Linked DNA regions of Homo sapiens: region 1 is linked to region 2. Evidence: fine-mapped QTL for protein levels in blood plasma. Region 2 holds a variant in brackets. A gene starts in the other region. All regions are shown on their forward strands.

What was found. PIP is the chance, under the fine-mapping model, that this variant and not a neighbour inherited with it causes the effect. The UK Biobank Pharma Proteomics Project read protein levels with antibody pairs (Olink). The fine-mapping took linkage between variants from a reference panel, not from the people measured, so its PIPs are less certain.
Region 1: TSHB starts here. The variant in region 2 is fine-mapped to the plasma level of the TSHB protein (UK Biobank, PIP above 0.99).

The regions. Positions count from the first base shown.
Region 1 is chr1:115,014,913-115,030,499 of GRCh38, forward strand. TSHB (thyroid stimulating hormone subunit beta) reads left to right here and starts at 14,914. Exons shown (of 3, transcript NM_000549.5): 1 at 14,914-14,948.
Region 2 is chr14:36,260,982-36,277,069 of GRCh38, forward strand. LOC124903302 (a long non-coding RNA gene) reads right to left here and starts at 12,301. Exons shown (of 2, transcript XR_007064116.1): 1 at 11,438-12,301; 2 at 8,087-8,330. LOC107984003 (a long non-coding RNA gene) reads left to right here and starts at 12,302. Exons shown (of 3, transcript XR_429356.5): 1 at 12,302-12,412. RefSeq lists an enhancer at 11,480-11,979. The variant C/T (reference allele first, on the strand shown) is at 8,174.

The DNA of each region.
Region 1 (15,587 bases), not on the chromosome of region 2:
TAAATTTGTTTGAGTTCCTTGTAGATTCTGGATATTAGCCCTTTGTCAGATGAGTAGGTTGCAAAAATGTTCTCCCATTCTGTAGGTTGCCTGTTCACTCTGATGGTAGTTTCTTTTGCTGTGCAGAAGCTCTTTAGTTTAATTAGATCCCATTTGTCAATTTTGGCTTTTGTTGCCATTGCTTTTGGTGTTTAAGACATGAAGTCGTTGCCCATGCCTATGTCCTGAATGGTATTGCCTAGGTTTTCTTCTAGGGTTTTTATGGTTTTAGGTCTAACATTTAAGTCTTTAATCCATCTTGAATTAATTTTTGTATAAGGTATAAGGAAGGGATCCAGTTTCAGCTTTCTACATATGGCTAGCCAGTTTTCCCAGCACCATTTATTAAATAGGGAATCCTTTCCCCATTTCTTGTTTTTGTCAGGTTTGTCAAAGATCAGATAGTTGTAGATATGCAGTATTATTTCTGAGGGCTCTGTTCTGTTCCATTGGTCTATATCTCTGTTTTGGTACCAGTACCATGCTGTTTTGGTTATTGTAGCCTTGTAGTATAGTTTGAAGTCAGGTAGTGTGATGCCTCTGGCTTTGTTCTTTTGGCTTAGGATTGACTTGGCGATGCGGGCTCTTTTTTGGTTCCATATGAACTTTAAAGTAGTTTTTTCCAATTCTGTGAAGAAAGTCATTGGTAGCTTGATGGGGATGGCATTGAATCTATAATTTACCTTGGGCAGTCTGGCCATTTTCACGATATTGATTCTTCCTACCCATGAGCATGGAATGTTCTTCCATTTGTTTGTATCCTCTTTTATTTCATTGAGCAGTGGTTTGTAGTTCTCCTTGAAGAGGTCCTTCACATCCCTTGTAAGTTAGATTCCTAGGTATTTTATTCTCTTTGAAGCAATTGTGAATGGGAATTCACTCATGATTTGGCTCTCTGTTTGTCTGTTATTGGTGTATAAGAATGCTTGTGATTTTTGTACTTTGATTTTGTATCCTGAGACTATGCTGAAGTTGCTTATCAGCTTGAGGAGATTTTGGGCTGCGACAATGGGGTTCTCTAGATATACAATCATGTCATCTGCAGACAGGGACAATTTGACTTCCTCTTTTCCTAATTGAATACCCTTTATTTCCTTCTCCTGCCTAATTGCCCTGGCCAGAACTTCCAACACTATGTTGAATAGGAGTGGTGAGAGAGGTCATCCCTGTCTTGTGCCAGTTTTCAAAGGGAATGCTTCCAGTTTTTGCCCATTCAGTATGATATTGGCTGTGGGTTTGTCATAGATAGCTCTTATTATTTTGAGATACGTCCCATCAATATCTAATTTATTGAGAGTTTTTAGCATGAAGGGCTGTTGAATGTTGTCAAAGGCCTTTTCTGCATCTATTGAGATAATCATGTGGTTTTTCTCTTTGGTTCTGTTTATATGCTGGATTACATTTATTGATTCACATATATTGAACCAGCCTTGCATCCCAGGGATGAAGCCCACCTGATCATGGTGGATAAGCTTTTTGATGTGCTGCTGGATTCGGTTTGCCAGTATTTTATTGAGGATTTTTGCATCCATGTTCATCAAGGATATTAGTCTAAAACTCTCTTTTTTGGTTGTGTCTCTGCCCGGCTTTGGTATCAGGATGATGCTGGCCTCATAAAATGAGTTAGGGAGGATTCCCTCTTTTTCTATTGATTGGAATAGTTTCAGAAGGAATGGTACCAGTTCCTCCTTGTACCTCTGGTAGAATTCGGCTGTGAATCCATCTGGTCCTGGACTCTTTTTTGTTGGTAAGCTATTGATTATTGCCACAATTTCAGATCCTGTTATTGGTCTATTCAGAGATTCAACTTCTTCCTGGTTTAGTCTTGGGAGAGTGTATGTGTCGAGGAATTTATCCATTTCTTCTAGATTTTCTAGTTTATTTGCGTAGAGGTGTTTGTAGTATTCTCTGATGGTAGTTTGTATTTCTGTGGGATCGGTGGTGATATCCCCTTTATCATTTTTTGTTGTGTCTATTTGATTCTTCTCTCTTTTTTTCTTTATTAGTCTTGCTAGTGGTCTATCAATTTTGTTGATCCTTTCAAAAAACCAACTCCAGGATTCATTAATTTTTTGAAGGGTTTTTTGTGTCTCTATTTCCTTCAGTTCTGCTCTGATTTTAGTTATTTCTTGCCTTCTGCTAGCTTTTGAATGTGTTTGCTCTTGCTTTTCTAGTTCTTTTAATTGTGATGTTAGGGTGTCAATTTTGGATCTTTCCTGCTTTCTCTTGTGGGCGTTTAGTGGTATAACTTTCCCTCTACACACTGCTTTGAATGTGTCCCAGAGATTCTGGTATGTTGTGTCTTTGTTCTCACTGGTTTCAAAGAACATCTTTACTCCTGCCTTCATTTTGTTATGTACCCAGTAGTCATTCAGGAGCAGGCTGTTCAGTTTCCATGTAGTTGAGTGGTTTTGAGTGAGTTTCTTAATCCTGAGTTCTAGTTTGATTGCACTGTGGTCTGAGAGACAGTTTGTTATAATTTCTCTTCTTTTACATTTGCTGAGGAGAGCTTTACTTCCAACTATGTGGTCAATTTTGGAATAGGTGTGGTGTGGTGCTGAAAAGAATGTATATTCTGTTGATTTGGGGTGGAGAGTTCTGTAGATGTCTATTAGGTCTGCTTGGTGCAGAGCTGAGTTCAATTCCTGGGTATCCTTGTTAACTTTCTGTCTCATTGATCTGTGTAATGTTGACAGTGGGGTGTTAAAGTCTCCCATTATTAATGTGTGGGAGTCTAAGTCTCTTTGTAGGTCACTCAGGACTTGCTTTATGAATCTTGGTGCTCCTGTATTGGGTGCATATATATTTAGGATAGTTAGCTCTCCTTGTTGAATTGATACCTTTACCATTATGTAATGGCCTTCTTTGTCTCTTTTGATCTTTGTTGTTTTAAAGTCTGTTTTATCAGAGACTAGGATTGCAACCCCTGCCTTTTTTTGTTTTCCATTTGCTTGGTAGATCTTCTTCCATCCTTTTATTTTGAGCCTATGTGTGTCTCTGCATGTGAGATGGGTTTCCTGAATACAGCACACTGATGGGTCTTGACTCTTTATCCAATTTGCCAGTCTGTATCTTTTAATTGGAGCATTTAGTCCATTTACATTTAAAGTTAATATTGTTATGTGTGAATTTGATCCTGTCATTATGATGTTAGTTGGTTATTTTGCTCGTTAGTTGATGCAGTTTCTTCCTAGTCTCGATGGTCTTTACATTTTGGCATGATTTTGCAGTGGCTGGTACCGGTTGTGCCTTTCCATGTTTAGTGCTTCCTTCAGGAGCTCTTTTAGGGCAGGTCTGGTGGTGACAAAATCTCTCAGCATTTGCTTGTCTGTAAAGTATTTTATTTCTCCTTCACTTATGCAGCTTAATTTGGCTGGATATGAAATTCTGGGTTGAAAATTCTTTTCTTTAAGAATGTTGAATATTGGCCCCCACTCTCTTCTGGCTAGTAGAGTTTCTGCTGACACATCAGCTGTTAGTCTGATGGGCTTCCCTTTGTGGGTAACCCGACCTTTCTTTCTGGCTGCCCTTAACATTTTTTCCTTCATTTCAACTTTGGTGAATCTGACAATTATGTGTCTTGGAGTTGCTCTTCTCAAAGAGTATCTTTGTGGCGTTCTCTGTATTTCCTGAATCTGAATGTTGGCCTGCCTTGCAAGATTGGAGAAGTTCTCCCAGATAATATCCTGCAGAGTGTTTTCCAACTTGGTTCCATTCTCCCCGTCACTTTCAGGTATCCCAATCAGACATAGATTTGGTCTTTTCACATAATCCCATATTTCTTGGAGGCTCCATTCATTTGTTTTTATTCTTTTTTCTCTAAACTTCCCTTCTCGCTTCATTTCATTCATTTCATCTTCCATCACTGATACCCTTTCTTCCCGTGGATCGCATCAGCTCCTGAGGCTTCTGCATTCTTCACATAGTTCTCGAGCCTTGGCTTTCAGCTCCATCAGCTCCATCAGTTATACATTCGTCCAAATTTTTTTTCAAAGTTTTCAACTTCTTTGCCTTTGGTTTGAATTTCCTCCTGTAGCTCAGAGTAGTTTGATCGTCTGAAGCCTTCTTCTCTCAACTCATCAAAGTCACTCTCCATCCAGCTTTGTTCCATTGCTGGTGATGAGCTGTGTTCCTTTGGAGGAGGAGAGGCGCTCTGCTTTTTAGAGTTTCCAGTTTTTCTGCTCTGTTTTTTCCCCATCTTTGTGGTTTTATCTACTTTTGGTCTTTGATGATGGTGATGTACAGATGGGTTTTTGGTGTGGATGTCCTTTCTGTTTGTTAGTTTTCCTTCTAACAGACAGGACCCTCAGCTGCAGGTCTGTTAGAGTCTGCTAGAGGTCCACTCCAGACACTGTTTGCCTGGGTATCAGCAGTGGTGTCTGCAGAACCGCAGATTTTCGTGATCCGTGAATGCTGCAGTCTGATCATTCCTCTGGAAGTTTTGTCTCAGAGGAGTACCCAGCCATGTGAGTTGTCAGTCTGCCCCTACTGGGGGGTCCCTCCCAGTTAGGCTGCTCTGGGGTCAGGGGTCAGGGGTCAGGGACCCACTTGAGGAGGCAGTCTGCCTGTTCTCAGATCTCCAGCTGCGTGCTGGGAGAACCACTGCTCTCCTCAAAGCTGTCAGACAGGGACATTTAAGTCTGCAGAAGTTACTGCTGTCTTTTTGTTTGTCTGTGCCCTGCCTCCAGAGGTGGAGCCTACAGAGGCAGGCAGGCCTCCTTGAGCTGTGGTGGGCTCCACCCAGTTCGAGGTCCCCAGCTGCTTTGTTTACCTAAGCGAGCCTGGGCAATGGTGTGCGCCCCTCCCCCAGCCTTGCTGCCACCTTGCAGTTTGATCTCAGACTGCTGTTCTAGCAATCAGCGAGACTCCGTGGGCGTAGGACCCTCCGAGCCATGTGTGGGATATAATCTCCTGGTGTGCTGTTTCCTAAGCTGGTTGGAAAAGCACAGTATTTGGGTGGGAGTGGCCCGATTTTCCAGGTGCCGTCTGTCACCCCTTTCCTTGACTAGGAAAGGGAACTCCCTGATCCCTTGCACTTTCTGAGTGAGGCAATGCCTTGCCCTGCTTCAGCTGGCACATGGTGCACTGCACCCACTGTCCTGCGCCCACTGTCTGCCACTCCCTAGTGAGATGAACAGGGTACCTCAGATGGAAATGCAGAAATCACCCATCTTCTGCGTTGCTCACGCTGGGAGCTGTAGACTGGAGCTGTTCCTATTCAGCCATCTTGGCTCCTCCTGCCACATTTTCTTAATCCCATTTATCACTGTTGAACATTTAGGTTGGTTCCAAGTCTTTGTTATTGTGAATAGTGCTGCTATAAACATATGTGTTCATGTGTCTTTATAGCAGCATGATTTATAGGCATGGGCAAGGACTTCATGTCTAAAACACCAAAAGCAATGGCAACAAAAGCCAAAATTGACAATGGGATCTAATTAAACTCAAGAGCCTCTGCACAGCAAAAGAAACTACCATCAGAGTGAACAGGCAACCTACAGAATGGGAGAAAATTTTTGCAACCTACTCATCTGACAAAAGGCTAATGTCCTTTGCTTTTCTGTTGAATTCTTGTGTTCCTTTTTGAGTGTGAATCTCTAAACACTGTTTTGCTTCTTCCAAGTAGGTGAAGGATGCTAGAAAAGCATCTAATCTTCCATCATGGGGGAGAAAAGCCTAATTGTTTTTTAAATGTTTATTTCACTTGGGTTTTATTGAACTTCTAGGATTTGCGGTTTTATAGTCATCAAATTTGGAAATATTTTAGCCACATATTTTCAATTTTTTTTGGTCCCCACTTTAATTCTCACCTTTTATTCTGGACTCCAATTACATGTATTTTATTCTGCTTGATATTATTCTGCTAAGGCTTTTTAAAAAACTTTTTTTCCATGTGCTATTCATTTTAAGTAGTCTCTGAATTAGGTATTTGTTGCTGCTCAACAAATTATTCTAAAAATTAATAGGTTAAACCAACGATAAACATATATCAAATGATTTCTGTGGATCATGAATTTGGGTGTGACTTAGCTAATGGTTCTGGCTTGGAGTGTCTCTCATCAAGTTGCAGTCAAGATACTGTCTTAGGATTGCAGTCATTTGAAGACTTAATAAGGGCTGAAGATCTACTTCCAAGATGGCTCAGTTACATTGTTGATAAGTTGGTTCTGACTGTTGGCAGGAGGTCTCTGTCCTTTGCCATTTGGACTGCTCCACAGTTGCTGTCATTTGAGTGTTTTTGTGACTTGATGGCTGACTTCCCTCATAGCAAGTGATTCAACTGAGCAAGATGAGAGTGGAATGTCTTTTATGACAGCTTTAGGAATCACATAACTTCAATTCTGCTCCAATCTGAAGATCACACAGACATATCAAATCCTGGTATTACACAATGGGTGGGTATTACACAATGACACAAGTACGAGGAATTGAGGATCATTGGTACCATCTTGGAGGTTGGCTACCATTGTTACCATCTTGGAGGTTGGCTACCATGGTTTCTATTGCTGTGTCTTTAAGTGTACTGATATTTTCTTCTGAACAATCCACTCTGTTTTTCAGTTCATTCAGTGACTTTTCTTTTTTCATTTTGGATACTGTATTTTTAATCTCTAGAAGTTCCATTTGGGTCTTTTATTATACCTTTTATTTCTCTTTTCCTCATATTCATGTTTTCATTTAGATTCTTAAACGTATTAAAAATGTTTGTAAAAGCTCTATTAAGGTTCTTGTCTGTGAATTTCATTATTTCTGCCATTTTGAGCCTGTTTCTATTTATTGATTTTCCTTCTGGTAGGGGTCATATTTTTCATTTCTTTGCATGCCTAGTAATTTCTTATTGGATGCTCAACATTGTTAATTTTACATTTTAATAAGTGAGTTATATTTTGTTGTATTTTTTTAAAGGAATACTGAACTTTGTTCTGGCAGACATTCATGTTACTTGGTTCACTCAATCCTTTTGAAAGTTCCTTTTTATCTTTGTTCAGGAAGGTTCAGAGCAGCCTTAACTCTAGAGTTAATTTATCCTCACTTTTAAAGCATGACTTCTCTGAGGACTCTACCTAATTATGTATTATAATACTTCTCCACTTTGGCTTATGGAAGCACAAACTATTTTTAGACGTAAGTAAGCTCGAGGAATTGTTCAGCCTCCTGATTTTCAGTGATCTTTCCTTGGCTTCCTAGTTTCAACCCCATCATATACAAATTGGTCATCAGTTGAAGACTCAATGAAAACCCCTTTCAGATCTCCAGATTTTCTTTCTAGGCAGCTCCCTCCTCTTCATTTCTCTGTCCTAAAAATTCTAGGCATTTCAGACTCCCTGAACTTCTATACGTTTCTTCACAATTCCTTAAGAGTATAGTCTCTTTTTGGCTCCCCCTCTCTGTGCTGTAGCCTAGAAACTGCCTTCAGGTTTCTAGGACAATCGTAGGGCTTAATTTATTTGTTTCTTTTCTTTCAGTATCAGCCTTGTGGTGCCTATTATCCAAAGTTTATGAATAATTGGTTCATATATTTTGCCCTGTTTTCTAACTGTTTTTAGTAGAAGAGAAATTCTTATACCAGTGAATCCTTGATGGGTGAAAGCAGAAATATGTGGGGCTTTTGGGAGAAGCTGAATAGTCTGGGCACTGACCAATGAAAACAATGGTTAGTAGTGCTGGAGTAGAGACTGGGAGGCCTCCTCTTGTGCCAGGCAGGGAAGAGCTTTTCCCTACTCTTGACTTCCTTGAAATCAAAATGTGTTTACCTAAACACATTTTGGTCCTCTCCCTATTCCTTTACTGACTTTACCTATGGGGAGGTTCACCAAACCTGGTTCATATTTTGGGCTAGAATAGCTGGCTTAGTGCCTTTCTCCTGCCTTCTTTTGGGAGTAAGCTCAGAGGGCGATATGCTGGTATAAGAAGGAGAACGTAACTCAGTCCCTGGGATTCAGGGTTCTCACTGAGTTTGAAGTTCCTGTGGAACGTGTAATTGGAGATGTCTTGTAGGGGTTGGATACATGGGTCTGGGGCTCAAGGAGAGGTCTGGACTGTTATTTTATAGCTGTGTGAAGAAGATGACTGGTAAGAAGGAGTTTCTTGAGGGCAGTGTCTGGAATGAGGTGGAAATCCCATAGATTTGTTGAACAAATGAATTAATGAGTTCATGAATAGCCATTGTTCCCAATAGAAGATAATTCTAAACACTAGGAAAACTCATACATATGTAGTGAGACAAGTTAACTACATTATGGATTTGTTATTCTGTGACTACCACTGATTAATTTGCTAACTAAATTTTTGATTAATTTTTGCATATAATCATACTGCAAACTTCTTTAGAAATAAAAGGTGTGCTAAAAAAAGATAAGAAAAGTTTAAAATTTTTGGATGAGATTAATAGCATATTGTTCATTAGTTGCTGAGAAGTGGTTATACCTGTTATTGTGAATACAATTAATACTGCTCACATTATTCAGCCAGATAAATAATATCTAATTACCAAGAGGTTATATAAAGTAACATAAGTAGAAAGAAAGATATTATACTAAGGGATAGAGAAACTAGTTTTGACAGACAGGTAAGGAAAATTGGATACCAAGCTGACTTTATAACACTACAAATTTTATGACAGAAGATGTTAGCAATTTCTATTAACATTTATAGATGACCTTAATTTCAAAAAATGTTTTGAAATAGAAAAGAACTTGCATACATTCATGTAAATCTGGTATACAAGGGGCTTTAATCTGTTACCAAAAGAGAAAAGCAAATTGACATAATTTTTATACATATTAAATCAATTTTGTCTTCTCACTTGAGAGCTTTAAAATAATAAAATGCTCAATATGCAGATAGGGTGAACTCTGTTTGCTACCAATTATCTGTATTAAGAAAAAAAGCATGGAAAGGAATTAAGTAAACAAACAGGTTTTGTTTCATGTTGCAGGCCATTTTAATATGACTGTTACTGATAACTCAGGCTTAAGATGGCTAAACTGATTATTTTAAAAGTGTCTATATTGCCCAGGATTTTAGAATTTTATGGATATAGAGAATAGTAGGAGCTAGAAAAGTACCCAATCTTTGGGGTAAAGGATAATGTCAGTAAATCTGATTCATATTTTAATGCCACTTCTCTGTTTAGCTAAGTAAAGAGTACGAGTGTTTGTTTTTCTTTGAAAATGAGTTAAAATTTTAATGCAACAAAAACGATGTCAAGAAACTTGGATTTTAGCCTGACTTTGCCTATAACTATCTATAGAACATCAGAGCATTAAATAACCTCTCCATGGATGCAAAATGTCAGAATAGGATCTATGTTTCCATTTATTTATGTAATCAATATTTACTGAGTACCTAATATATAGCAGAGGCTGGTTTGGATTCTGAAGATATGGTGATGAGCAAGACAAACAAAGCTTCCATTTAAATTGCTTACAGTCTGGTTGGAAAGGGGGAGACAGAGAATAAGTATATAAACAAATAATATAGTATCAGAAAATGCTAAGTGCAATGAAGAATATATGAGATAACAGGATAAAAAGTGACAGTGGCAGTAGGCTGCATTAGACTGGGTGGTCAAGGAAGGGTTTTCTAAAGAAGTAATTTTTAAGCTGAGATGATAAGGAGAAAGCCATTCAAAGACTTGTTGAAAGGTTGCTCCATAATGAACAAATAGCAAATGTAAAAGCACTGTTCCAAGAACAAGTTTGGAATGTTCTAAGGGACATAATAAATAAAAGGTGGAGAGAGGTGGGTATGACATGAAGTTAGACAAGTAGGCACAGATGATTTCCACCTACCATATTTTTTATCAGTTTTATTGAGGTATAATTGACATACAATAAATTGCATATATTAGTTTCCTGGGACTGCCATAACAAAGTACCATAAACTGAGTGGTTTAAAACAACAGAGATTTATTTTCTTACAGTTTTAGAGGCCAGAAGTCCAAGATCAAAGTGTCTGCAGGACCATGTTCCCTCTGAAGCTGCTGAGCTAGGATGTATTCCAGGCCTCTATTGCAGCTTCTGGTAGTCCTTGGTTTGAAGCAACATAATTTCATTCTTCACATGGCATTCTCCTTGTTCATGTGTCTGTGTCCAAGTGTCCTCTTTTTGGAAGGGGATATATCCAATCATATTGGCTAGTGGCCTACTTTACTCCAGTATTATTTCATATTAATTAATTTCATTTGTAATGAACTTATTTCCAAATAAGTTCACATTCTGATATACTACAGGTTAGAACTTCAACATTTGAATTTTGGGGGTACATAATTCAACCCCTAACCCTGCATATATTTTGGTAGGTTTTAACATATGTATATCCTGTAAAACCATCATCACAATCAAGATAATGAACACATTTTTCACCTCCTAAATATTTCCTCTGCCCCTTGGAAATCCCTCTTTCTTCCCCTTCCTTGCCTTTCCTCATCCCCAGGCAATCATTAGTCTGCTGTCTTACACTAATTTGTATTTTCTGGTATTTTATATAAACTGAATTATATGGCATGTACTCTGTTTTGGTCTGTCTTAATAACATTAAGATTATAACATAATTATTGATGTTCATGTCACTGCTGTGTCAGTAGTTTATTCCTATTTACTGCTGACACATATTCTACTGCATATATATGACATATTTGTTTATCACCTGTGGATGGACATTCAGGTTGTTTCCAGTTTGGGGCTATTAAAAATAAAGATGCTATAAATGTTTATGTACAAGTTCATGTATGGATATATCTTATTATTTCTCTTAGATAAATACTGAGGAGTGGAATGATTGGGTCATATTGTAGGTGTATGTTTAACTTTTTGAGAGACTTATGGACTGACGAACTTGTACCATTTTATGTTTCCATCAAACATTGTATACAAATTTCGATTGCTCCACATCCTTGCTAACCCTTGGTATTTCCAATTTTTAAATTTTAGGCAGCCCAAGACGTGTGTAGTGCTGTCATTGAGGTCTTAATTTCTTATCTCTGAGACTAATGATGAAAATTTTTCATCTGTTTACTTCCCATCTACATAATTTTGTGAAATGTCTATTCAAACATTTGCTTATTTAAAAAATTGGATAATTTTTTTCTTATAATTGAGTATAGCAGGTTCTTCATATATTCTGTATACAAGTTCTTTATCTTATATATAATTTGCAAGTTTCTTTTCTTTCAGTTTGTGGTATGTCGTTCTTTTAACAATGCCTTTCGAAGAGAGAAGTTCTTAATTCTGATGGAGTCCAATTTATCATTTTTTGAAAATGGATCATGCTGTTGGTGTTATATCTAAGAAAGTTTTGCCTAATTCAAGTTTTGCCTAACAAAAGTTTTTTTTTTTTTTTTTGGGACGGAGTCTCGCTCTGTCGCCCAGGCTGGAGTGCAGTGGCGGGATCTCAGCTCACTGCAAGCTCCGCCTCCCGGGTTCACGCCATTCTCCTGCCTCAGCCTCCCAAGTAGCTGAGACTACAGGCGCCCGCCACTACGCCCAGCTAATTTTTTGTATTTTTAGTAGAGACGGGGTTTCACCGTTTTAGCCGGGATGGTCTCGATCTCCTGACCTCGTGATCCGCCCGCCTCGGCCTCCCAAAGTGCTGGGATTACAGGCGTGAGCCACCTCGCCCGGCCCTAACAAAAGTTTTATTCCATGCTTTCTTCTAGAAATGTTAGAATTTTAGTTTTTATATTTCATGTTAATATTTGTATATAATGCAAGATATGTATTGAAGTTATTTATTTATTTTTAAAAAGTATTTATTTTTATATATGGATAACGAATTGTTCCAGCACCATTTGTTGAAAATACTATTTATTTTCTACTCAATTTTGTTTTCACCTTTCTTGAAAATAATTTGACCACATGTGTACAGGTTTATTACTGGACCATATTTTGTTCCAATGATCTGTCTTAACACCACTTTCTTAATTACCATAGGTTTACCATCTTGAAATCAGCGATTCAGTAAGATTTTCAACATAGATGGTCATGTCGTATGTGAATAAAATTTTACTCCTTCCTTTCCCATCTGAATGTCTTTTTTCCTTTGGCTTATTGCGTTAACATTGCACTTACAGCACAGTGTTTAATAGAAGATGCAAAAGCAGACGTTTTTGCCTTTTTCCTGATCTTAGAGTAAACGTACTCTGTCTTTCAATATTAAGCATGATATTAATCATAAATTTTCCATGATGCCTTTTATTAAGTTAGGAGGTTTTCTTCTATTCCAAGTTTGCCGAAAATTTTTTCAGGAATCTATGTTGGATTTTGTAAAATGCTTTTTGTGTATGTGGTTGTGTGTGTGTGTGTGTTTCCATTGGGATCATCATAAGGCTTTTAGTTTTTAGCCCGTTAGTAGGGTGAATTTTCTTAATTGAATGCAAACTAAACTCGCATTCCTGAAATAAATTCCACTTCGACCATGATGTATTATTCTTTTTACATATTGTTTATTTTGTTTTGTTAAATTTTGTGAAGAATTTTTGCATCTATGTTCATTTCATGAGGGTTATTAGTTTGTGGTTTTCTTTTTTGATAATGTCTTTCTTGTGAACTCTAGCTGCCTTGGGGATCCATGGACTCCCAGGTCTATCTCTTCAATTTGGTGATGCTTCTGGCCTCTGCCTTGGTAACTTTTCATGCACTATGGCACAGAAACTTTCTCCAGGCAGTCTCTCCCTGTTTGTTTCCCATCTCTCTCGGATCATGTACTTTTGTTACCTGATGTCCAATATGTATAAAGACATTATTTTATATATTTTGTACTGTTTTATAATTATTTTAGGTGAGAAAGTAAACCTGGATCAGAAGCACAAATTCAACATGCCTGGATTCTTTTAACAGTATGAGATCATATACACTAAGGCCTCTTTAGCAAGAAAATCACTACCCAAATGCATGGTATTTATTATAGTTCTTTTAGTAACAGGCCAAGTGTCTATCAGTTGTCCATTACATATGTACACACACACATACATACATATATCTCCCAGGGATAGGTATATAAATCCGCTAGAAAATGAGTTCCTGAATCAATGCTTTATACAAAGGAGGCACTAATTCCATTAGAAACACACATCCAACATTCTTCCATTTATCATATTCCTGTGTTAGCATCTTGTCTGAAATTAGGTTGGCACACTCATTTCCAGTTTCCCTGTTTTCAAAATTATCTTACTACATAGTAGCTCACATTCCCAAGACCTTGGACCCTGGCATGGCCATTTCTAGGTATATATCTGTTAAACTAAATGTGGCCTGAGGATACCTCTGTTTTGTGAGTTCCTACATAATGAACTGCAACCTAACTTAGTATGTACACTACCTGAAAGCCTAACTTAGGAGTATACTTTTGTAACAGACAGCTGAATTTCAGCTCATCACAGCAGCTGAGCTTCAGTCAATTACAGGCAGCCAGCTGATCAGACTTTGTCCAAGTAAGGCAAGTGCTGATGTATAATGAAATCAAGCTGTTTCGATATCTCATTTCTACTTTCTGTCCATAAATGCTGTCTGCCCACATTGAGGAGCAGAGCTCTGTGAATCTCTTCTGATTCTGAGGGCTGCCTGATTTGACAATCATTCTTTTTTCAATTAAACTGACAAAAACAAGCAATGGGGAAAAGATTCCCTGTACAATAAATGGTGCTGAGATAACTGGCTAGCCATATGCAGAAGACTGAAACTGGATCCCTTCCCTACACCATATAGAAAAATCAACTCAACGTGGATTAAAGACTTACATGTAAAACCTAAAACTGTAAAAACCCTCGAGGATAACCTAGGAAATATCATTCCAGATGTAGGACCGGGCAGAGATTTCATGACGAAGACGACAAATGGAGTTTCAACAAGAACAAAAGTTGACAAATGGGACCTTTAACTAAAGGGCTTCTGCATTATGGCCCAGAAACTTTCTCCAGGCAGTTTCTCCCTGTTTGTTTCCCATCTCTCTAGGATCGTGTACTTTTGTTACCTGATGTAACAGGAAAAGAAACTATCAACATAATAAACACACAACCTACAGAATGGGAGAAAATATTTGCAAACTATGCATCTGACAAAGGTCTAATATCCAGAATCTATAAGGAGCTTAAACAATTTATAAGCAAAAACTGAAGAACCCCGTTAAAAAGTGGGCAAAAGACATAAACAGACACTTTTCAAAAGAAGATATATACATGGCCAATAAGCATATGAAAAAATGCTCACACCACAAATCATTAGAGAAGTGATATTACCTTTTAATAGAAACTGAAGAGGTCAAGCATGCCAATGTCATATGGCAAGTAAATGGCAGGGCCAAAATTTTATCTCAGGTCAGCTTGACATCCTGTCAGATGTGGCCATGTTCCTCAGAGTCATTCTTTCACATGTGTAAATTTTACTTAATATCTTAAAATCCCCCAAAAATATTTTGAACTACACATTTTGTTCTAAACAAAATTTTTAGATGAGGAATAATTTTATATATCTTTACATGAACATTTAGGTAAAACTTGAAGCCCTCAAGCCCCAAATAAATTTTTATTCCCAAGACTTATTTAGATGATGTTAGAGTGTTTTTTGAATTTGGTTTTTCCCATTCTGTATCTATCTTTTATTAATATTAATAAATAAATATTAATAAAGAATATATTTAAAAGGTAATTTTATTTTGAAACAGAAGAGAGGAAAATGCATGCTTTAATAATGTCAGTTTCCAGGTAAAGATATTGTGAGCTTGTTTGTCTAAATACATTTTATTTGGAATTCAGTATGAATTTTCAATAGATGCTTTTCAGATAAGAAAGCAGTAAATCAAATGCAATTGTATAAACAAGAAGATCAGAGGGATTATCCTGAAGGGTATAAAATGAACCAAGAGCTTTTAGTTTGGGTCACCACAGCATCTGCTCACCAATGCAAAGTAAGGTAGGTGTCTATAGTGAGAAGGCTCTGTGAAATGATATGTTCTTAAGCTATTTTTTTTCACTTTCACCATTTTATCATTTTTTAGAAAGTGGCAAATGCTGAAAGATAATTTGCTTCAACAGGCTGTAATATCTTAAATTACTGCTCCAAATTGTTTAGTAGTAGATGGAGGTGAGAGAACTACCTACATAAGGATAAGGAAAAAATTCATTGACTTAAAGAAAGAGAAACAACTGATTAGTTCCCTAATGAAGGATATTTGATATTCATGGCTTTCTTCTGTTTTCATTTTGATTTAAATATTGTTGTCCATTTAATGATGTGTGTATTAAATCCTCTCAATTACTGTACTAATGGCCATCTTTTATGAAAATGTACTTCCGGGAATGTTAGAGCAAATTCATTTTTGAGTACCTGCTGGGGTAATGTACTCTGTATTATAAGTTCTTTTTAGTTATTTAATAGCTAAACCTCCTTTGATAGTGTTCAACACACACACAGCTGCTGTATAGTACATTTTGCTTTCTAGAAAAATATACTGCTTTAGTGAAGTTCCAGGATTATTCATAGGATGGGCAATTAGTTCTTTTCATAGTAAGGGATTTGGAGAGTAAAAATTAATGAAGGAAATTAGCAGAG
Region 2 (16,088 bases):
GAGTATTTCTGATATCATTTTTCATTCAAAGCAGTGGCCCTATTTTGGCTGTAATACACTTAGATGGGATCCTCTATCACTCCGCAGCCTGATTTGCTGACACTCCAAAACTCTGAAACACACAAATATCTACACTCTGCAGCAAGTGCTGTTGCTGTACCTGCCTCAGCCCACTCTGCCTTAGCCTTGACTGTTTATCAGCAGGGAGTGCACTTGCCAAGTCCCTGTGCACCACTGCTAATCTTCTCCCACCTTCCCACTTTGTTTCTGATTGATTTCTTGGAAAGGCAATTTCAGGATGTGAACAGTTAAGGAAATATGGAGTTAATGTGGGACAATATTTTGGTTTCCTCTGAAGGTATACCAACTTCAGGGAAATAGATCCCTATTACACTGTTACCAGGAGTACAAATTATAACCATGGTTTTGAAATACCATTTAGAAATGGTGTTGTAAGCCTTTGAAGTGTAAATGCTTCTTTTGACCACAGTAATTCTACTTTTAAGAACACACCTTAAGAAAATAATCTTGGACATATGCGAATTGTTTAGTTTGGGGTTGGTGACAGTGAAAATTTAGAAATAGTCTGTATGACTAATAGGATACTGATTAAATAAATGCTGTTTCCATAGTAAAATACCATTTAGCCATTAAGATAATGTCGTAGATATCTAAATGCATAGAAAATATGAAAAATATTGAAAAGTAGAAAGATTTCTGCAAACCAACACAGCATTATCTCAAGTTTGTTTTAAAATTTTAAAAGAATATATGTATATTTATGCATACAAAAAATATGTAGTACAATATTAATCATTATTATCTCTGGCTGGTGAGATTATGAGTTATTTCATCTTTCCATTGTATTTCTGACTTTCCATATTTTCTACAATGTACACTGATGCTTTTATAATCACAAATAAAAATGATTTACTTTAAAATGCAGCATCTGCACAGAAGTAGAAAGCTGCCAGCTAGGTCTTCAACCCAAGCCAGAGAGGAGATAGTCATGGTGAAACCCCGTATCTTCCCACTATCTTCTGCATGGTATTTCCATTAGGAGTGCTTTCAGCTATGAGTAACAGAAAGTCTTAGCAGTTGAATAGTCTGTAGAAATATTAATTTACCTATCACGTCTGGAAGTACGCAATTTCGGGATTGGCCTAGAGATTCAACTGTTATCACTTTCCATCTTTTTATTCTGCTGTCCTTAGAGTGTTGGATTTTCATCCACATGCGTGTCCCCACATGGTCTCAAAACGGCTGCACTCTCACTTTCACAATCAAGGCAACAGGAAGGAGGAGGGGGCTATACTGGCATGTCTGGAAAGCAAGCCTTTCTGGGGCAAAGGAGAGGGGGCTTGGGTATCACTATTGTATAAGCCAGTCGGAAATATTGGCCACAGGTGAGCAGGGCCTATTCTGTTGAGACGTATCATAGGCTGATTATTATTTTTCTCATTCCAGCTTCATTAGGCTTATAGTTAGGAAAAATTCTTCCACCATTCTGGCAGAGTTGTTAGTTTTAGTCGGTGTGAGGTTTTCTTTCTCTGTCTTTAGGGGAGTTGGGAGTGGATACATCAGAGGGTACCATGCAGAAGACACTTGAAACGGAGTTCCTTGATTTTCAAACATTCACATCCTTTATTTCATATAAGAATGTGAGGTAAGTATATATGGTTAATAAGTATGAAGCTATTCTGTGAATTTTATATATGATGAAATTGAGAACAAGAGACTATTAATAAATGATAAAGAAGACAGGTGACCACAAGTCAGGATATATTTGTGATGCCCAAAGATAACTAGCAATGAGCTAGGCACAGCACAGCAAGTTCTTAGTACTTGTTCCAGGTCAGACCTGTTACTATTGAGTTTGATTCTATTATCTAGTCTAAGAGTAAAAAAGCATTTAAGAAGTAAAAGACAGAGTATCCAGAACACATTTTGGGAATCCAAGAACTTTGATTTCACTGTGGATATAACCATCTCAACCCCTGCCTTTCTCTTGTGTGAATATTCCCTTAAGTAATTTAACCTTATTTCCCTATCTGTAAAATGGGAATTATTTTGTATACAGTTTGCCTTGCTAAGAGTTATTTGAATTAATTTGTTAATGTGCATAAAAGGCTTTTTGAGATGAAAAGTGCTAGGCATTGCTATTCGTTCTTCTAATGATGTATTTAGTGTATAATGGTTAAGCCTCTGAAACAAAACACTGATAAAAGGTTGAAATTCTCTAATAGGCATCACTTAGCTGATGATGTTGCTAGCTAAATGGCCATGAGTCTATTTTAGTATTCTCTCAAGTGAAATTAATTCAGAAAATAAAAATTAAATGAGTTTCACTTAGAAGTGTACTAAATTTAGTGATAGAGTTTACCTGACCAGCAGGTTTTGAATATTCAAGCAGCAAGATTTTACATTGTGTCAGTATCACCTTTGCTGTATTATTTAATTCATTCTAGCTTTATAATCCTTATTGCTTTCCCATTATTTCCTACCAATAACTATTATTGAATAAATTATTCTTCATATGTGTTGCTAGATTTTTCAACCAATGCTTCAACATTTATGAACTGCCTGTCTGCACAATATAAACCCCTTTATCATGCTTATCGTTACATATGGCAATGAAATTTTTCCCAGTAGTTTCGTATGTATATATTTCCTCCCTAACTGCAAGAACAGAAACTACCTCCTTTATGTTCTTTGTAAGTCAGAAACTTATTAATTTAACAAACATAATATAGCCTTCTATGTTTATATAAACAGACAAAAAATTAACATTACACCAATATCTTAATATCATTTTCAAAGCATTTTTAACCTATTCATTTGATCTTCACTAGGGTGTTATTCCTATTAAAAAATCTACATTGTGTATATGTATACAGTTTTTTCCTTGCCAAATGGAAAAAAATTCTAACCAATTATGATTTGTAAGGCCTTTAGAGAAACATGAAATATTTTCATAATGTTACTTTCATTTTTTTCCCATGCTTAAAATAACAAGATAAGAATATTTGGGAGAAAGCAGGCCAGAGAGATTAAAGGATATGCCTAAAGTTGTATGCTATTTGGTAAACAGAATGAGACCAGAACTTCAGGAAAGTCATTCTACATCAGTACAAATATTGGAGGTGGACATTCTTCTTCAGTGGAAAAGCAGCCTGGAGGAACCAAATAGTCTTTTAAAAAAACACTTTTTCAAGTGCAGGAAATCATCTTATCAGTGACCATGGAGCAGCCCCCAAGCCAAGCATGATCTCTTTATAAAAATAACCAAGGCCTACTCCCTACTCTTCAGTGGCTTTGTGACTTGTAGGTGAGACACACACTTACATAAGTTCCTGCAAATCAATGGAGACTGTCCTTTGGGAAATCTGATAAAACCACATTTCACTGTGCCTGTTCAGCCTGTGGGAGTGGGGATGGAAGCAGGAAGTGGGAAGAAGAAAACTTTTAAGGAGAGTAAATCATATCAATGAATAGAAATAAAAAGACACCAATAACTTTATGTAAAACTAATTAGCACTTATTTCATTAGACTGTAATTATCTGAGTGTCTGTCATTACCACCAAACACTGAGCTCCTCATTGCCATAAACCATTTTGTGGCAGACACTGCTATTTGGACACTGAAATTCATTCTCTCATTCCTGCTTAGCCCCACAAGCCTGACTTTTGGTTAGATAAGTGGCACCAGAATAAAGTCTATGTCTCCCAGCCTTTCTTGCAGCTAGGTATGTGACTGAGTTCTGACAAATAGGATATGAGCAGAATTGCTGAGAGTTCTGAGAAAAACTCCTTTAATCTTTCATCCTGCTGCCTGCGATACAGGTGGCAGCTGATGTTTCAACTGTCTTGGACTGTGAGATAGCCTTGAGGGTGAAAACCAAAATAGGAGAGAAAGGACTCTGGGGTTTTTTGATAATTCTTTGGAATCATCCCCTGAGCTGACTTCAGTCTTAATTTACACAAAAGAATAAACCTGAGTGTATTTAAGCCGCACAGTTAAGTTTCTGTCAATAGTGGCTGAAACAAAGCCTCACCAATATACATCACATCTGTGTATTCCCAACAGACAGTATGGTGCCTACATTGGTAGTTGCTCAAATTATTTGCACTTTAAATTTAATTATTTAAACCTTCCTTATTTTAAAAAGAATTAAAGACAGGATGCTAAATAAATGGCTGCAACAGTTGAAATTACACCAGTTACCAGGAAGAAGATAAAGACCAAATCAGGAAAACAAACACAAGAATGAAAAATCAGTCCTCAAGATATAAAATCATAGAAATTACACACAGAAATGTAAAGGCGACATTACTCTTTTGCTAAGGAATAAAATCTGGCAACATGATTTTAAAAGTATCTTAAGACAGAAAACAAAATAAAAAATTGTGAGTAAATAATTGGCTCTACATATGAGTTGCTAATACATTAAAGGACAAAAATCAAACTCAAAATGATAGTTGAGAATTGATCTATATCAAAGCGGGGAAGGGTTGAGTAATTTATAAAGGAAAGAGGTTTAATTGACTCACAATTCAGCATAGCTAGGGAGGCCTCAGGAAACTTACAGTCATGGCAGAAGGTGAAGAGGAAGCAAGGCACCTTTTTCACAAGGCAGCAGGAAGGAGAAATGCCCAGAAAAGGGGTGGAAAGCCCCTTATAAAACCATCAGATCTCGTGAGAACTCACTCACCATCATGAGAACAGCCTGGGGGAAATGGTCCCCCAGAATTCAATTACCTCCACCTGGTCTCTCCCTTGACATGTGGGAATTATGAGGATTATGGGGATTACAAGTCAAGATGAGATTTGGGTGGGGACACAAAGCCTCACTCAGGAAATCATGCGCAAAATAGGTGCTGGTAACTATGATTTATTCAACAATCACTGACAGCAATTCTTCTGTGCCGGGCACTGTTCTAAACACTTATAAATATTAACTCACTGAATCCACATTATAACCTTATGAGGTAGCTATTGTTGTTATGCCCATTTTTTAGATGGGAAACTGAAGCCCAGAGTGATCATATTACTTGCCCATGATCACATAGTAGGTGGGGGAGCAGGATTTTACCCAAAGACCAACGTTTTTAAGATGAAAAGTGTTGGGCATTATTATTAGTTCTTCTAAAGTATACTTTAGGGCATAGCATACTGATGGGCAGACCAGCTTCTTGGCTCCTTTAAATCTACTTCACATTTTGAAATTATGGAGAAAGAAAGAGAATCTGGAAAGGACCCAGAAATAGGTTAAAAGAAAAGTCATAGGATGAAAAAATGGATCCCTGAGTAAAACGCAAAGTTGCTGTGTTTTAGAGAAGAGAAGATACCAATGAATTTTAACCTCCAGTGAGAGTGTGGTCAGAGGAAGGACAGAACTGCTTGATTGTGATAGCTATAAAGGAAGGTGTTGGAATCCGTGATCCTGATGGTTCTTAAAATAAGGATAGATGATGTAAAATATATTTGCAGCAATGTGGATGGAACTGGAGTTCATTATGTGAAGTGAGTAAGCTAAGCACAGAAAGACAAAGATAGCACGTTCTCACTCGTGTGAAAGCAAATAGATGGAGTTCATGAAGATAGAGTAGACTGGTGGTTATCAAAGGCTGGGAAGGGCAGAGAGAAAAGGTATGAAGAGACATTGATTAATGGGTACAAATATACAGTTAGACTTAGTGTTTGATAGATCAGTAGGGTGACTCTAGTTTACAGTGATCTGGTGTACATTTCAAAATAGCTATTACGTTGGTGCAAAAGTAATCACACCACTTTGCCATTAGTTATAATGTGATATTAAAATCACATTACATTACTTTTAATGTAATGGCAAAATGGTGTGACTACTTTTGCACCAGTCTAATAGAGAATAATTTGAATGTTCCTAGGAGAAAAATAAATGTTTAAGGTAATGGATATTCCAGTTACCCTGATTTGATCTTTACATATCATATGAATGTGTCAAAATGTCATTCGTACCTTGAAAATACATATATCTATCATGTATCAATTTCCAAAGATTAATTTAGAAGATTTTATAAGATATATATATATCACTTCTTTCATATATATTCTTCTGAATTGATACTTATAATTCACATAAGTATATGTAAATTCTGAATGCCTTCTCTGCCTTTTTCTCCTTGTCTTCCTGGAGACACTTCCTTATCTTCCATGATTTTGCTCCGAGAATATTCCCTGTTGAGGCTCCCTAACCTTCCCTCTGTCTCTTCCCAAGTGCAGTTGACTCGGGGTGGGGGGGTGCTTAAACATTTTTAGCCATTTTAGACACTTGTATTTGGGCTATTTTCCCACTGTGTTTGCAATTAATTGTTCACAAGCACGCAGCCCTCAAACAGGCTATGTATGAGCTTCCTAGGGCAGAAACCACCCAACATAGTGATAGGCACATGCTTGGCACTGAAGAAAAACTTGCTGAATGAAAAAATGAATGAACAATTAACTAACCATATGCTATAGGAGAACTAGTGTAATCCAGAGGGGGCAATATCATTTTACAAATGCATCTTGAAATTTGACAATGATGACGTGAACACACAGATTCCACTGTCCAGGAACAATATCCAAAATAGAAACCGAAGCAAAGTGTTAAGAAAATAGACGAGGTGTTAACAATTATTTTTTTCTTTGGAAAAGTCACCTACTAACCTTGCAAGAGGCATCATTGTTGATTCATTGAGCTTTGCCCTCAAAAAGGTAAAGAAAACATCCCTAGCACAGTACTCAAAACAATAGGAAGACGAAAAGCAGTGGGAAATTTGGCCTTGCCCTTCACAGTTCCCTCGAGAATTTTTAGTTCTATTGTGAAGCCTTAGTACTCTGGCTATGACCTCTGTGTACTCCAAGATTGGGGCAGCTTTGCACATAGCTTATGGATTAAACCCTTGGGACCATCCTATAGCCTGAGCTTTAACTGGTGTCAAGAACATGCACCCAAACCTGCATATTCTTTTCTTTTGCTTTACAGGGGATGGGGACTCCTTTTTAAACCGAAGCTTTAAAAGAGAGTAGCTAGAATTTATGCTGAAGTGGAGTAACAGGCCTTTGGAGCTGAGCAGTGTCCTAATGCAGGTGAAAAGCATGTATTGATTACTTAAAGAAAGTTAAAATAAAAGCAATTTTTCTCCCCATTTCGGCACATTGCAGCTTTTGGCCTATCCACTCATAGCTAAAAAAGCATTCTTTCCTGATAATCAAGCTTCAGCTGTCTGAATTTCAGGCTGAGCCTCTCCTCCTGAGCTCTGCTGAAGAGCTGCTTTAATTAACCATTATACCACAGATGTTATTGATTTTTTTTTCAAATCTGGTTGAAACATCATTGTGCTGGATCATGGCCAAAACTAAGGCCTGAATTTGTGTGTGTGCGCTGCTTTTACTCCTTCTGCATACCTTATTAGTCTCCATGTCTGTTAAGTGCAATCCTTAGTATTAACTCAGAAAATATAGAATTGATTTTTAGCCTAGCAGCCGTGATCTAAGGGCTCCTAATTTGAAATCTGAAAACCTCAGTTGCTGAGGAAGTCTTTCTGCTGTTACTCTACACTTCCTTGAAGTAAGCTTTTTATTCTTTAATTTAAAAAAGAAATCTCCCTCTGCCTTTTACTTCTTTTTCTTTCACACACATACATTTGGAAGTTTCAAGGGAACATGAACATCTCTTTGCATTTTGAACGTGTTTGTCGTGAAAGGCCCCAGAGGCTTATTCTTCCCTGCCCTAAATGTTTGACCTGCAATGTAGATTGTATAAGATTTTGAAATTGAAGTGTCTTTAACACTTTCCATATTTTGAAGGGAAATTTGGAAGAACTTGAACAGCATTCACTTTGAGCAAATTGCAGGATATCAGAAACAACGGGGCATCTGCCTTCCTTTTACAATCCACCTTCCAGTGGGATGATAAACTCAAGGACCAAACAATCACAGTAGGTTCCTAAATTCTGATAAGGTTTCTGTGAGTTTAGTGATACATTCTTTAAATGTAATTTGAAGCTTTTAAAATACTGTAATGGCAGCTCTTGACCTTTAAAAATCACATGGAGCAAGAGGTGGTGAAAAATGTTTATTTACTCTGCATTAGTGGCTAACCTCCTGTTCCTTCCTAGAACCAGTAGTTCTTTTATACTCGGGAACTCA[C/T]GCATGTCACCCTCATTCTTCCAACACGAACCAGACAGGCCCACTTGAGCTGGAGAAACAATGGCCTGTAGCCGGTCCTATGCCTCAGTGCGAAACAACAATGCAGGCCTCTTGACGAATTCTGGCGTCGCGAGTGGAATCTTGCAGTTCAACATGTCTGCTGAACAGAAGTTGGAAAAAGAAAAGATCATCTTGTAAACAATTAATTAATGTTTGTCATGAATTATCATTTTTACTTCCTTCTCAAGAGGCTCAAAGGGAATAAAAAGGCATTTTTGCAGGTGGTGGCATTCAAACTAAGGGCAATCAAAGGTTTGAGAGCTGAGGCACAGCACTCTGAGTCTCTAAGGGTGAATGGTGCTAGGATTAGAGCACAGCAGGGGGTTGAGGGCTTCAGGTGTGAAGCTTAATGTTTGTGATCAGCAAAAAAAGTCTTGAATTTATCTAAACTGCTCTTCTGCTAACAGTACTTCTAGCACATAAATGTTCTGAAACTGACAAGTGTTCTCATTGCTCTTCTAATGCAAACATGATCTGCATTTGAAAGATGCATCCCTTTTGCCTAATTTAGAATGTGCATCACAAAGAGCGTTAGATGATGACCCCACAAAGAGATACACACACACACACACACACACACACACACACACACACACACTCCATGCTGCATGCACATACACACATGAAAACTGTCTCTTTCTGGCCTAGATCTTCTCTGAAGCTCCCAGGAAGGATCCTGCAAGATTGTTTTTCTCCAGATTCCTAAACCAGAGGTTGAGAACTAGGGGCCTCAATAGCCATCTGACCAGTGAATTCCTCTGATCTTCTACATGAATAATTCCTTTTAATTTGGTTTGGATAACTGTCTAGAATTTATCGTGCTGCATTTTCATTTGCAATCTTCCCTCTGCTTCTCCCAGCATTGAATTCTATCAGTAGCAAGATATTGAAGAGTATCCAATATATGTAAAAATTTTAAACACACACACCACCAATATTAAAATTTCCTAAGGAATTATGACTAATATTTGCAACCCCTAGAACCAATGATCTTGGCAGGCATTGTTGATAGAGGTTGCTAAGTCCATATAAATACATCTGATGGTTTAATGAATCCTCTCCGTAATCAATTGTTGAACTCTAATTAAATACTCATTTTCTTTCTATATCATCAATAGAGGTCACCTACTAGGAGAGCTCTAAAGGAAATACTAAGTTAAAGATTATGAGATATCACTTAGTGAAAATGAGTCATAGGCAAAACTTAGAAGGACCAATATGAATCTTAGCCTTGAGTTACTTTTTAATCTAACCTTCCCAAACTCTCTCCTATCCCGTAGTACCCACCCATTTTCTTTTCTGCATTCACATTTCCTATTCCCTGTAGTATTCACCTGAAATCATGCAATAAACACAGGTTATTGGGGCATGAAGCCTGGAGGCCCTGAGGGATCCAGGATGACAAAGGAAATGTAGGCACAAACTTGCCTCCTTTTGTCTTGACTCTTTTGGAGCTATTAAGTCAAGTGATGCTCTGAGGTTTATAGTCACCATCCTAGACCATGTCGTGGGATTTTCCCTTGAATCCCAGCATGTAGTACAAACATGTGGGCTTAAACTTAGGAAAAAAAAACCCAGAAGCTAGAGAAGAGTTTGGGCAAAATGGGCCAAACTAGAATATTATCAGCTCAGGGACATGAAAGGAGAGTTAAAAAGTTTAGAAGAGGAAGGGATCTGGGAGGAAAGAAGGTGAGCAGAACCCCTGAGATGGAATAGACAGAAAGGAACACCTTTCCTGAAATTCCTGGCAGCTCTAGTTTGTTAACATCTAAAAGTGGATAAAATGACTTACCAGAAAAAGTAAATTAGTTTCTCAAAACTACTAAAACTCTTCAAACCTAGAGATCTACTTATTTTCTGTGGTTCCCCATTTTTTGTAAAGATGTTAAAATCCTATTAAAAGCCAAATGCCAACTGCTGTAGAATTATGTAGAAAAAAACAGCGAAAAGAAAGTAGCAATGGATATGGTGAAACTGAAAAAGACTGGAGTTCATGACACTCTCTATACCCAAAGGTATACTCCAGATTTATTACAGGTACACTGAGGTTGTTTCTAAGTCCCAGGATTCTGGACCTTGGTTAGGGTGTGTGGCTCTGCCTGTTGGTCTACCCTATGTCCACATCGTCTCTCTGAACCTGCCTAACTTTCCCTTGCCCCCTTGCTGAACAATGCTCTGCATGTGGCCTTGTCTCTAGGACAGATCATATGACTGGGGGCAGGAGGTTCCCCTTTCTTCCCTGCCACATGCTGCTCTTCATTCTTACTTTGGATGGCTAAGATAGCATTCACTGGGGCTTGAGGGGAGGGGGCTGAAAAGGTCTCAAATGAGTGAAAAATTGAAAGCCTATGTGGCTTTTATTGGTATTGGATCAATTGGTCTAGATCTAACTGGAAAATGTTTTACTGTAGGGTGAATTTTACAAAATTATGAACATTTAGCTTTAAAATAAATGGCATTGATTAATCCAGTCATTACAAATATGTGCAAAGTTGGTATCAGCCTAACACACTCCCCCTACCAGGAAAGACACAGACTGAAACATAGATGGCAATGGTTTTCACATTCTTTAAGTGTAAACAATTAGATTCCCCCAACAAGTGTTTAGCTGCAAGTTGCATTAACCCAAAGCAACAAGGAAGAGTTTCAAGGAGTAAAAACAAAGAATAGTTTTAAGGAGTATTACTAGGAATATATCTTCCTTCTACAGCAGAAAAACTAGATGGGGGGAAGTCCTCCTATAGATTGCTAACGAATGCCTCCCCCAACCACCCAAGAAGGAGTTGTTGATGGAAAGAATTAAAAATTGTGACCACTTGAACGGCTCCACTGGTTGGATCTGTCTTTTCCAAAGAGACTGATCTTTCTAGGACTTCTGTCTGCGTGAGAGGTCCCACCCACCCTGCTACCATTTTAAGGAGACCTGTGAAAGCCTCCTTATTTGGCTTCCCTCCTACTCCCCCCGTTATGCCACCACTGTGTGCTACTGCTTGAAATTAATCAAGGGCCCCTTCTGGGAAAGGGATTCCTCTTTGAGAGAAACGGAACTGGACACTTCTCTGCCTTCCGCGTCCCCTCGCCCTGCCAGCCCCTGCTCCCCAAAGCTCCCCAGACAAAGCCCCAGGACTCCCGACTCCCGCGGAAGCTGCGAGGAGCCGCAGACCTGCCCTTGCCAGACAGCTGCTGTTTGAACCCAGTTCTGACCGTAAAATCAAAAGTGGGTCCGAGGGAAGCGGTAAACACTGTGCAATGAGCCTTTTGAAGGCAGCTGATGCCTCATTTGGGGTGACATGTTGTGGCTGATGAGTGTGGATGATGTGGGGTTTTCGATAAGTGCCTCATCAGTATCCTCATCATGCTCGTGTTGCTCCGCCGCGGCGTGTGCCCTGACTTGATTGTAATTGCCCGAATCTGCTCCCGCTGCTCAGGCGCGCACAGTAATATGCAATAAAACAGCAAGAAGTGAATGTTAACCATCTGAGTTCTGACACGGCGGCTCTGCAGTTCAAGATCTCCATTAAGACCGAAAAAAAAAAGAAAAGAAAAAAAGGAAAGAAGGAATCAGAAAATTCCCAGGGTCTCCTTCTGTGATCCAAGGGAAAGTCCAGAAATTAAGGAGCTGTTTGTTTAGTCTTCTTAGGTCCTCACAGGTAGAAACTAACAGGTAGTTTGCTAGTGTTTATTTATTTATAATTATTTTTTTTTTACATCCCAGGTGTCGCTGCCCTTGCTGCTTAACTCTAATAGCAGGCACCGCTGCAGCACTTGCCCAGGTGTGGAGGGTGGTCCAGGTCTTCAGGGGAGGCAGAGACCCTCCTCGCCCCAGTCTGTCAGTGTCCTCCGTAAGCCTTCGGTTGTTTCAGGTGCTAAATATGTAAGATCCAACTTTTCAGCGAACTCAAAGAGGCAGACACCTGAAGCACTGCTTCATCAAATCACTCACTGCTTACTGGCTTGGTTTTCAACTTCGCTAACATGCAGAGTGACCTAAATGGTCTCTTCCGTTCTTTCCACAATGACCACACACCTACGGAGGTCGCCTTCTATACTTTGAATTAAACCTGCTAGTGTCAGGGACATCGGGAGAACCAACTTCTGGAAACTGAGCTGGTCCCCAGGACTGTGTATTTAGTTTTCAACTGTAAGAAAAGGAAGTCTATCTGGGAAAGGAGACCTGAGGTGAGCGTGGAGTGATCACCTTTCCTTTCTCAGATGAAATATTTTAAATGAGGGTGCAGTTTTTTTTTTTTTAATAAGGTAATTTTCTTAAGTAAAGTTAGACTTTGTACAGCCTGGATTTCAATATAGATCTGATGATAAATATGCACACTTGAAAATCTAATTTCCACATTATAAACCTACTTTTCTTAGCCTTATCCTCTCCCCTTTTCTCCCTGGAATGAACCATAATTGCTTATCCTTTTGTAGGTAACAGCTACTATCCAACCCATTGTCTACTTAGGAGCATTTCTTAAAGCGTCTCAAAGAAAATACCATATTCTTTGCCGTTTCCTGTTAATTGAGTTCTTTCGGAGCCAGTGGCGTGGTAACTTCAGAATGAGATTTTAATTACATATGGAAACTTTACCATTGTTTTTCATTTTAAAGAAAGTAGGGTTTGCTCAAAAGTATTCTTTTTTTCTCTCCCCATTTCTGGTAGCAACGTCTTTTCCGAACTTTACAAATGCTGTTTGTTTGGACTCTGGGTTTTCTTCTTGCTTAAAAAAAAGCCTCACATCTAAAACTAATCAATTCGGCCTGCACTCCCACTTGGAAACTCCTATACAGATGGAGTCTCATTAACTGTTTGAATATCTGTATCAGTAACTGTTCAAGAGAAACAATTCCAGCCCACATGGATAATTAATGGAACCCTTCACAGGAAAATACCATTTTTTTTTTTAATTTTAGATGGAGTCTCACTCTATTGCCCAGGCTGGAGTACAATGGTGTGATCTCGGCTCACTGCAACCTTCTCCTGGGTTCAAGTGATTCTCCTGCCTCAGCCTCCCGAGTAGCTGGGATTACAGGCATGAGCCACCAGGCCCAGCTAATTTTTGTATTTTTAGTAGAGACAGGGTTTCACCATGTTGGCCAGGCTGGTCTCGACCTCCTGGCCCCAAGAGATCCTCCCACCTCAGCCTCCCAAAGTGCTGGGTTTACAGGCATGAGCCACTGCACCTGGCCAAGACCATCTCTTTTAGTAACTACCTGGTCTTGCTTAGCAAACCAGTCAGGTTAAACTTCCTCCTGCCTGGGCTAGTCCTTCCGAAAAGCAGCCAGAAAGCTCCTCTTCATATGTAGCGAGTGACTGTATGTAACTGCCTCCCTACAACTGCTGCAGGCCACCAAGTCTTGCCTAAATTCCTGGTAGGTTCAACTTGAATCTTGGGTGGACACAAGAAGAGAATGAAATCACCCTGTGGCTGCTACCCTCAATAATGCCATAGGCGGCAGCCTTTCTCTTCACCCCAAGGACATGCCTCTCTCTGATAAGGATGTCCTTATCCATCATGTGTTATAAGGCAAGATTTACTCCTGAGTGGTTGGATCAAATTCCCATGTGGGGTTATCCCATTCCAGCTTTAAAAATTGCCCCTTGCAAATTCAGGTAGAGAAAACCTTTCCATTTACTTCCTGCCTTAAGCAGGTGTGCAGTGTTAGCAGCACTATGCTTTCACACAGCTGTTGCTTTTTATCCAAGAAGCGGCTGCATTTCAGAGGTGGGTGCTTCCAGAATAGAGTTCTGGCTCTTCTAATTAACTTGGCATTCTATTGCAGTTCATAGAATACGTTCCCTTAACAGGTGACATACAAATGAAGGATTTTTAATATCTTAAAGACAGACACATTAAATGAATACAATTTTAAAAGAGATTTTAAAAAGCTAAAACAATAATAATTGTATCAGAAAAGCAAAAATGGATAAACAATTTCAGTGAAAGTGTGAGGACCTTAAATCAGTGTAAGTGTGCACTCTGGGAGGAAAGATGTTAAACCAGGAAATATTATTAAATGCAGCCAGGACCCTAGCAAATTTCTTCTCAGAAACTGATGTTTGTGTCTTCTTTTAAAAATCAAAAATTGATTTTAAAGAATGTACAAAGGAGTAATAAGTAATTTAAAAAATATATTGGTACACAGTAGGTTTTTAAGATTCTGTCCTTAACTAATGTCCATCCATTTTATATGCTAGCCTAGAGAATTAGTAAATTGAAAAGAAAGGTATACAGAACTTTGATACAGAATATCTATGTACTTTTATATTCATTTAGGTATTTGCATGTGCACACACAGTGTATATTCACATAAATTTGAAGTAAAGATTTGCAAAAGTTTGTTCCCAAAAATAGTTCTCTATTGTAATTAAGAAAGAATATGAAAGGAGGAAAATTAATTCTGAAATACCAAGCGCTTTCGTTAAAAGGCAAGTTTAATCAGTAAGAATGCATTTTGGCTTTTATTTTATTTTATTTTTATTTTTATTTTTTGCATAAGTCAGCTTTTAGATAGTGCGTCTTAGTGAACCTGATTGGATTCAGGCTCATAAGTTCCGACGGAATTCTGCACAAGTTGAAGGATGTGCAAAAACTGCAACATCAACAGTTCATTTCAAAAAGATTCCAGAAAAAAAAAAAAAAAAAAAAAACTCCAAACCAAAAAGCAACCCTGTGGTAACATTTCAGCATTAAAAGCTGGGGTTGCCATGGGCACCAGAGAGAAGCTCAGTATAAGGACTGCTGCCTGAGGTTACTGGTGGGGGATGGGCATGCCTAGGATGCACAATATGTGGGGCAGCATCATCAGCTGAATGGTAGTGTCTTCATTCTATGGGGCCCCAAAAAATGCCCCATACTATTGTACTATTGCTGGTCAGCGGAAGACAATGAGTCTATATGCTTGTGATCCTGTGAAGTGAGAAATAACCAAAGCCCTAGAATTTATAGAGAGATAAACTCAAGTTCCTTGGCCAGGCGATATGACCAGGGTTGGAGAGTCAGTTGGTGAGCCCATGTAGCTGCCCACGTCCTAGTCCTTTTCCTGTATGCTGTACCTTAGGGAAGTTATTGGCCACACATCCTTTGAGGATGCAGGTTAGCTTGGGTCAGAATGAACCATAAGATGCAAATACAAACCAAAATTTGGTGAGCTCAATTTGGTAAGCTCAAAACCAGCAAAAGAGTCAGGGAAGGACTCCTTCCATAGTCAAATCTCAAATTTGGGTTTATTCAGGTAAAGCTATAGGGTCGCCTCCATATCCCCAAATAAATCACCCCTCCTGATGGAGGTCCAACTTTCCCGGCAACCTGAACAGACTTTTGGGCCAGAAATAATATGTGTCCTTGGTCTAGAAACACAACCCCGGGGTTAATAAGAGCAATCCAACTTATGACTTCTTATATCCTTTTCCATGAACATTAAAGGTTCTATTCCATAATCATTAAAGAAGGAGCTTTAATGATTAATGGTAAATTGAGAGTAAAAAGTCTGCTAGTCTATTAGTGTCACAAGGAGACTGTCTTAAAGACAATGAAAATGGTGGCTCTTACTGGTACAGCAGAGAAAATGAGCAAATACCCAAGTGTCAATGAATAAGACATTCCCATCTTTCCTAAACTTGGGACAAAAGAGACAAGCAAAGATCTGAATTTTATTCCTTTCTTTTAGCCAATAAGGAGAATTTTAAAGAAAAAGAAATTCATGGAATAAACTAGAAGTGTGCCTCAAGACAGACAAAGGGAATGCAAAATTAAATTTTTGATGTGAAAGGGAAGGCACAATGAAACCTTCTGGATGAGATACCTTTGGAGAAAATTTCAATTTCACTGTTTCTTTTCTTTCAGGCTTGCTTTAT